3 separate regions of the Homo sapiens genome follow, and all the other regions are linked to region 2. The links come from fine-mapping of genetic effects on plasma protein levels. Region 2 holds a variant in brackets. A gene starts in each other region. All regions are shown on their reverse strands.

Region 1 (2,756 bases), not on the chromosome of region 2:
GACAGGAGGCTCTGTAGCCCCTTGGCCTCACCTGGGTGGGCTTATCCACCATCTTCTTCAGTTTTTGGACTATCGTCAGACAGGTCCTGTAGTCACGGCCCAGCTCCTGTGTTTTGGTCAACAGGTCACCCTGTCAGGAAAGAAAGCCCTTATGATGGTCTCTCAGACACTCTGGGAGCGCGTGAAAGTGCCCAGGAAAGGGGCCCTTTGTGTTTCTGAGGCCGGCAGGAATGTCCGTGATCTCTTCCCAGAGCGTGGATACACTGAAGGCCTGAACTGGCTGCCTGGCCCCTGCCCACCCTTTTGCTTGTCTTAGAGGCTCTGAGACACCCCAGAAACAGCCTCCCACACCCCCAGTACTTTCCCAGCCCTGCACTTGCCCCTCTCCTATTGAGGAACTCCCAGGGGAGTCTGCCTATTTGGGTTCTGCAGCCCCAGGCTCCTTGGAGGGTGAGACCCCAGAGGATCCTCCTGGAGGAGTCTGCCAGATACCTGTAGCCCTCCTGGCCAGACATGAATTCAACAAAACCAGCATCGTCAGAAACAGCCCAGCCTCCACTCCCACCTCCTGACCATTAGAGAGCTCCAGACCTCACCCCAGGAGCCACCAGGGAGGAGGGAAAGGAGAGGGACTGTGGCAGGTGAGCAGAGAGCCAACACGTACCTGGGGGCCCTCCTGGGCCAGGCACGGGCAGGATTTCTCCTCATCACGCAGGTGGGCTCTTGCCAGGTCGTAGTACTCAGGGCTCAGACGAGAGAAGACCAGACCTGAGGAAGACCAGACTTCAGCTTCCCCTCCGCAGGCGGAAGGAGAGGGAAAGCCCGTTCTCCTGGCTGGTGGGAGTCCAGGAGGTGACCAGGGCCTAGGACAGGAGCTGGGCCTTGCAGGGGGCCAGGATACCTGTCCACATGCTTTGCCCTGGAGCCGCTCTGACCCACTCTCAGCACAAACACGTGTTCTCACGTTCCTTCTAGAAAGCCAGGAGGGCGAGACTCTCTCTTCTCCTCTGTTCCCCCAGCAACACAGATTTGGGGGTCGGTTTGTCTAGAAACTTCCCTCAATCTCCTTTCAAGGGATTTTCTTTTTTTACCTTCCATCCAGATGGCCCAGCCAAATCCACTCTCCCTTCCAGAAGTGTTCTTGCCCTTGGGGCTCACACTGACCTCAAGGCCTGGGAGAGAGCAGGGTGCAGGGGGCAGGAAGTCTGCCTTGAACACAGAAGAGATCTTGTTCTCTCACCAGCCCCGCACAATCCTAGACAGTGTAGGCCCGAGGAAACGCAGATCCACCGATGAGGGCCAATGGCCTTCACCACGCAGATGCGGAGGCAGGGGCTTGGGAGGGAAAGGGGGGTCTCAGGCCACACAGTGTGGCCAGTAGAGTTAGGACCAGAATCCCTGGCCTGTCTCTCCTCCTTGGCCAGGCCAGTGACAGGCTGGGCAGCACACTGGACTAAGCCTGGCTCTGAGGGGAGGCCAGGCCTCCATGACGGGGGAGAAGGCCGGGGGGAGGCAGGGGCACCTGGGTGCCCACAGAGTCCAAGCTCCAGGTTCAGCCAGCCTGAGAGTGCGAGGCTGGGTGGGCCATCAGGATCGATCCCGAGGGGAAGGCCTTACCTGGGTTGCCCAGGAGCATGGCTGCAAGGAGCAGGAGGGCCCAGGTAGCCATGGTGGGGCAGCCGCTGAGATGCCTTTCACACCCTGTTTTATGGGCAGGGAGCCTGCAGCTTAATCTTTCTCAGGTCCTGCCCTTTTTGTATGTCATCTCCCCCGTGTCACTGGGTTTACCACAGATACAAATACCAGTGTGTGAAGAAGCAGCTCAGGGCAGTGGTAGCCCACAGGGTCCATGCCACACCCCACTCCCACACAACTAGAATGTGGGGTTGCTGGAGGCCAGCAGCTGCCAGGATGCCTGGGATGTGCCGATGGAGGGAGAAACCCCTTAGTACAAGTACGTTCCAGATATTGCATGGGACATACTTATACTAAAAGTATAAGTGAGTCATCTCACTTGACCCAAAAACTATTTTTAAACAGCTTTTTAATTTAACAATATACCACGAACATCTTTCCACATTTGTAAATGTAGATCTTCTTCATCATTTCCCCTGGTTGCCTAATGGTTCCCTTTACACATGAACCATAGCTGGGGTCCTGTAACTCTGGGACTCGTGTCCCCTGTGGTACTTCGGCTTGAAGAGCAGAGGCTGGGAAGCCTCTCCAAGGGCTCACCCAGTAGTCAAGTTGAGTGATGTGAGGGCCTTCTTCAGACAGGGTGCCTCAGCATCTCAAAAAGGCAGCTGTAGCTCCTCCAGGCTACAAGGCCTGTTCACGTGGAAAATGGAAAGAGTGAAGCTGAAAGAGGTGGTACCTGTATAGGAAAAACATCTTTCCCAGGGACCCTCAGCCTCCATCTCATTGATCTGAACTGTGTCACATGATGACCCTGGCTGCAAAGGGCAATAGGAAGGGAGTCTTTTGCTGGACCTTCACTGACACTTTGCTTTTTGTTGTTGTTGTTTGTTTTTGTTTTGTTTTTCTTTTTTGAGACAGAGTTTCACTCTTGTCACCCAAGCTGAAGTGCAGTGGTGTGATCTTGGCTGATTGCAACCTCCACCTCCGGGTTCAAGTGATTCTCCTGTCTCAGCCTCCTGAGTAGCTGGGATTACAGGTGCACGCCACCATGCCCTGCTAATTTGTGTGTTTTTAGTAGAGACAGGGTTTCACCATGTTGGCCAGGCTGGTCTTGAACT
Region 2 (2,709 bases):
CAAAAAACCTGATCTGTATCAGTGCAAAGTTTGCCTATGTTGAATCACTGGGTAGCAGAAAACATTTCTTATTTCACAAATGAGACAAACAAGGCTTAAAGAGTGAAAACAAACTGCCTAGGGTCACCCAACCAAGGAGTAAAGAACTGTGACTTGAACCCTGATTCTCTGCCACCAAGCCCAATGAGAAAGGCTTACAACTAGTGGTAGGAAGGATGATTTTCAGTGGTTCTCAACACAAATATGAAAAACAGAAAGGGGATGCAAGTGACTCAAGTTTGGAAAACTGCACACGCCCCTCTGCTATTCTAACTGAAAGATGAAATTAATAGTAAGCAGGGCATTAATCACTGATCTCTTCCTAATTCAGATACTTAATTTTTCTTGTCTTCTTTGATTAGCTCCTCCAATAGAATAA[T/C]AGAATACTGAATAGAGCCATAACTGATAATAGCTTTATCTTTTTTTTTTTTTTTTTGAGACGAAGTCTCACTCTGTCGCCCAGGCTGGAGTGCAGTGACTTGATCTTGGCTCACTCCAACCTTTGCCTCCCCGGTTCAAGCGATTCTCATGCCTCAGCCTCCCGAATAGCTGGGCCCACCACCATGCCTGGCTAATTTTTCTATTTTTAGTAGAGACAGGGTTTCACCATGTTGGCCAGGCTGGTCTCGAACTCCTGGCCTCAAGTGATCTCCCCATCTCGGCATCCCAAAATGCTACAGGTGTGAGTCACCTCACCCGGCCCGATAGTAGCTTATTCTAAGTTTAATACTGTTCTAAAGTTTCACCGTTAAGTATCATGTTTTACAGATTATTCATGGATGCACTTTTTTTGAGTTTATGGAAATTCCTTCCTATTCCTCACTCAGTAAAAATTTTTTTTAACTCATCTCTGGCCCACTTGTTTCCCTTCTCCATGCTGTTTTCCACCCACCACCCTTCCTTTCTTTCTTTTTTTTTTTTTTTTTTGAGATGGAGTCTTACTCTGTTGCCCAGGCTGGAGTACAGTGGCGCAATCTCCGCACACCACAACCTCTGCCTCCCGGGTTCAAGCAATTCTCCTGCCTCAGCCTCCCGAGTAGCTGGGACTACAGGCACGCGCCACCACGCCCAGCTAATTTTTGTATTTTTAGTAGAGATGGGGTTTCACCATGTTGGCCAGGATGGTCTCGATCTCCTGACCTCGTGATCTGCCCACCTCAGCCTCCCAAAGTGCTGGGATTACAGGCGTGAGCCACCGCGCCCGGCCTCCTTCCTTTCTTGTATTTCAGGTTCCTTCCTACATTCTACGCATCTCAAAGTACTATATCTGCCACTCAAAGTAACCGAAACGCTTTGATATTTTGGGGGTTCTATACCTGTCTGCTGTTTCAGTTCCCTGGACCAAAAAAAAAAAAAAAAAAAAAATCGAAAATTGACAATTGAAAGAAAATCCTAAGGCAAACACTGTTCCAGTCATTACTGAAGACTGCAGAGGTAAATGCAGATTATTTCTTCTCTCCATCTCTTTTGTTTGAGACAGGGTCTTGCTCTGTCGCCCAGGCTGGAATGCAGTGGTGCGACGTGGCTCACTGCAGCCTCGACCTCCCGGGCTCAAGCAGTTCTCCCACCGCAGCCTCCAGAGTAGTACAGGCGCGTAACATCGCTCCCAGCTAATTTTTGAATTTTTTTGTAGAGACAGGGTTTCGCCATCTTGTTCAGGCTGGACTCAAGTAATCCTCCCACCTCGGCCTCCGAAAGTGCTGCGATTACAGGCATGAGCCACCGCGCCCAGCCCTTCTCTATCTCTTAAACACATCCTGAAATGTCCTTTCTTTAAAGTAAAAACTCGGGGAAAAAAAAGAACCCAATAGTTCTAGATGACCATTTACTTTCCGGTATGTTGCCTAGCTCTGAATGAGCCTGGCTTTTTAAGTGGCTGGAAGAAGCTCAAAGTGTTTTTTTTAAGTTTTGAGGGAAGGAGCTGGATCCAGATGTTTATAACTTCGACTCTCTCCTTTGCTAAAATAAAAAGTATTAAAGAGAAAAGCAAAGGAAGAGGGGTAGTATGTGTAAGCAAATAAATTCCACACATGAAAGCTGAAGACACAAGGGAAAACCAACCCTTTAAAGCCCAAGCAAGTTAAGAATTCTCTCCCTCAATTTCTTTCAAAACAAAAGGGCACACACAATCCTTCCCGAAGCAGCAACGCCGGGGGGAGAAGCCAAAATGTTGCATCATACAGAACACTCCGCGCTTGAGAAACGAGAAAGCCAGTAAATGCCCAAGACAGAAAAACACAAGTTGGGAATCTCGGTCTTTTCCGAAGGTCCAAGAGCACCTGCTCTTTGGTAAATTTGTTTAAGATTGCATCGAAAATTAAAGTTTCCGTTTCAGACCAGTGGGGAGCAAATGCTTTTTCAAAAACGCGTTCAAAGAAGTTCGTTTGAAAGCTCATCGGGCGGCGGGCCGCAGTTCGGGCTCCGGGCGGCGGACCGGAGCGCTGGGGAGCGGGTGGGGCCGGGCCCCGGCGCCCGGGCGGGGGGTGGTGACAGGACCCGCGCGCGCCCGGCGCTGGGGCCCCGGGGCAGGCAAGTCCCGCCCGTGGGCTCTTCCCGACCCACCCGGGCGCGGGACGCTGGTCTGGCGTCCGCCGATGCCTACGCGCTGGAGACGGTGGCCGCCGCCCGGGTCCCCAACCCGGACCCCTCGACGGGCCCTCGGAGGCGGGA
Region 3 (2,756 bases), not on the chromosome of region 2:
ATATATTATGACTATAATCAGAAAAAATTATTTTTAAAACGTCTACTATGGGGCAAGCTAGGTTCAAAAAATAGAAGTTTGATAAATGTAGTTGGCTTGCTATTGACAAGGAAGACGTTTACACTGGAATTCTATATTTTGAGATATACCATTCCTCATAGAAAAATTTCCTCACAGAAAATATAAAGGTGGAAACAAATCACAAGAATCGAACCATGTAGAGAGACTTAGTTGTCTTTTAACAGAATTGGGCACGGGCTGTTCAGAAACAACAATCTTTCACATCCATTATAATGATAGCATTAGTGTAGTTTGTTTAGCAAATGTTTACTGTGAGCCTGTTATGTGCTGAGCCTGCTATGTAAGAAGTGTGGCTCTCTGGACAGGAGACAGAATACTAAACAACACAACTACTGATCTTTGGCTGCCTGGCATGCTTCCTCACTTCATATGGTATCAGCAATTTAGCACCACAAACGTCCTTTAGAGAACCAGCCCTTTCTCATTCTTGGTTCTAGTGGCTTGAGTAGACTGACCCCAGCCTACCCAAAGTGGATTTGACTCCTAGCAATTCATTAATCTAGCCCAATAAAATGTCAAGTACAGGACTTTTATTGAAAGCATTCAGAAAAGAGGTGGACTCTCACACTAAACATTTGTAACTAAATAAGGGATGTTAGAAATTCTCTAGAAAGGAAGCTATGATAATAAATGGGTTGCTAGATGGGTCTAGTAGATGGTGGCCATGCTTTGTTACTGCCTTGTGTATTGTGCTACCATAGCCCTCCCCAAACTGTACTCTGGCTCCTGGCATTTCCGTCTCTTCAACCAGATGGTCAGCTCTCTAAGTGAAGGAGACACATCTCCAACATGCTTGGTTCTAGCACAACAGAAGGGCTCAAACACATACCTGCTAAAGAAACTATCCTGATGGATTTAGCAGCATGGCCATGAGGCATTGGCGGTTCTATCACTGGGAACTCAGGTTTCTGGTGCTCCAGTACCTCTACTGGCTGATACCACATCCTACAATTCACTTCATAGGCTTGGGTTCCTGCTCTGGGCTGAATAGGTGGTCCACTCTGAGTCATCAGCTGTGGGTGATGATGTGGTCACTGCATGATTCTCACACAAGCACCCAGAGGACGTCATCAGGCAGAGGCAGTGGGGGTGGGCAGCATTTACAGAAAATCTGTGATGAGACACCACAAAACCAGAGGGGAACATGAAGTCACTGAGCCTGCTCCACCTCTTTCCTCTCCCAAGAGCTAAAAGAGAGCAAGGAGGAAACAACAGCAGCTCCAACCAGGGCAGCCTTCCTGAGAAGATGCAACCAATCCTGCTTCTGCTGGCCTTCCTCCTGCTGCCCAGGGCAGATGCAGGTGAGTGACCGTCTCCACCCTCGGGGGCCCAACCCCATCCCACAGGTCTCCTGCCCTTTCTCCACATTCCTGATCCATCTATCTACCAGGAATGTTCTGAACTCCAGCTCCCATTCTACCAAGACCCCCCAAGTGTGATGCTGGATAAGCTATCAGCAGGAATGGCAGAGCAGCAGGCCATTCTCAAGAAGAGCCAGTGGGTACTATCCCTTCCCCAGAGCCCACCTTTGTCACCTGGAGAGTAGGACTTTCCTAGAAGTAAATGGCAGAGGATGGGAAACTAGAAAAGAGAAATATTAAATTATTCTAGAGTAGGCCTGGCTTCTGTTTCTGGGATAAGACAGGTGCTTCTCTCACTGTCTACTTAGGAGAGAAACCCAGAGCTCAGCTGACAGCAGAATTGGTACAATCACTGTCCTCAGAACACTGTTAATGTGTTTGCTCAGTCCCATTCTCCAACTCTGCTTTTCTTCCCTGGCCTTTGGTGGCTCCCCTCTTTCCAAGGATGAGGCACTACGGCAGGCCCCAGCTTCCCTGCTTTCTAGAATTCCACCAGCACTGCTCTACCAGCCCTCATCCAGAGGCTAACTGGAGCCAGTCCATCATGCAGCCATGAACATTTACTGGGCACCCACTACATGTCAGGCTCTAGGAAACAGGATATGACAGTATCTAGATCCCTCCACTTACACCCTGGCCATTAGAAAGCAGCACTATCCTAGACACCACAGGACTCATAAGGGTCTTGGAAACTCACCTGAAACAAAGCAAAGTCAGGAGAGGAATGATCAGGAGCCTCTGGGATTTCACTGTCCCTAAGACAGGTATGCTCGCCTTCAACTACATATGGAAGAAAGATTTACAGACCAAAGTCTGCTGTTCTTCCCTTTTTCAGAGCAGGAAATTGAAGCCCCTTCCTCCAGGCCACTCCCAACTCCAGGCTATCCCAGGCTCCCAAATGCCCAGGAGTTCTGGAGCCACTAAGCAGGTGCCCACCCAGCAGATTCCATGGGTGCCCACAAGCAGACAGACTTTTCCTTCAGGGGAGATCATCGGGGGACATGAGGCCAAGCCCCACTCCCGCCCCTACATGGCTTATCTTATGATCTGGGATCAGAAGTCTCTGAAGAGGTGCGGTGGCTTCCTGATACGAGACGACTTCGTGCTGACAGCTGCTCACTGTTGGGGAAGGTGAGGAGCAGAAAACAGCCCACACCCTCCTGGAAACACTCCACAGAGACCCCTGCCTTCTTCCCAAGGAGCTCCCTGGGCTCCTGTGAACACACATGCCAGGAGGTCTCCTTAGAGGGTGAGAAAAGGGCAGTTAAGTTTGTGGAGAGAGGGGAAGGTTGGTTCCAGAGGTGCTGCTGAAGT

Alleles and levels. Positions count from the first base shown, and alleles are read on the strand shown. Strength reflects both the effect of a copy and how common the allele is.
For the plasma level of the protein whose gene starts at base 1,730 in region 1, allele C in region 2 goes with a lower level than allele T (moderate association).
For the plasma level of the protein whose gene starts at base 1,298 in region 3, allele C in region 2 goes with a lower level than allele T (weak association).

Evidence for each region. PIP is the posterior inclusion probability: the model's chance that the variant is causal. The UK Biobank Pharma Proteomics Project read protein levels with antibody pairs (Olink). The fine-mapping took linkage between variants from a reference panel, not from the people measured, so its PIPs are less certain.
Region 1: it holds the start of GNLY, and the variant in region 2 is fine-mapped to the plasma level of the GNLY protein (UK Biobank, PIP above 0.99).
Region 3: GZMB starts here. The variant in region 2 is fine-mapped to the plasma level of the GZMB protein (UK Biobank, PIP 0.96).

Annotation. Positions count from the first base shown.
Region 1 is chr2:85,693,332-85,696,087 of GRCh38, reverse strand. It overlaps GNLY (granulysin), which reads right to left and starts at 1,730. Exons shown (of 5, transcript NM_006433.5): 1 at 1,618-1,730; 2 at 665-768; 3 at 32-130. The coding sequence starts at 1,669.
Region 2 is chr1:24,745,791-24,748,499 of GRCh38, reverse strand. All of the region lies in intron 1 of CLIC4 (chloride intracellular channel 4), which reads right to left. Among named protein-coding and RNA genes, the nearest start is that of CLIC4, 1.7 kb to the right of the region's middle. RefSeq lists a silencer at 2,482-2,641 and an enhancer at 2,533-2,709. The variant T/C (reference allele first, on the strand shown) is at 419.
Region 3 is chr14:24,632,732-24,635,487 of GRCh38, reverse strand. GZMB (granzyme B) reads left to right here and starts at 1,298. Exons shown (of 5, transcript NM_004131.6): 1 at 1,298-1,382; 2 at 2,426-2,573. The coding sequence starts at 1,328. It overlaps GZMH-AS1 (GZMH and GMZB antisense RNA 1), which reads right to left and starts at 2,386. Exons shown (of 3, transcript XR_007064087.1): 1 at 2,140-2,386; 2 at 1-1,192. RefSeq lists an enhancer at 720-1,919.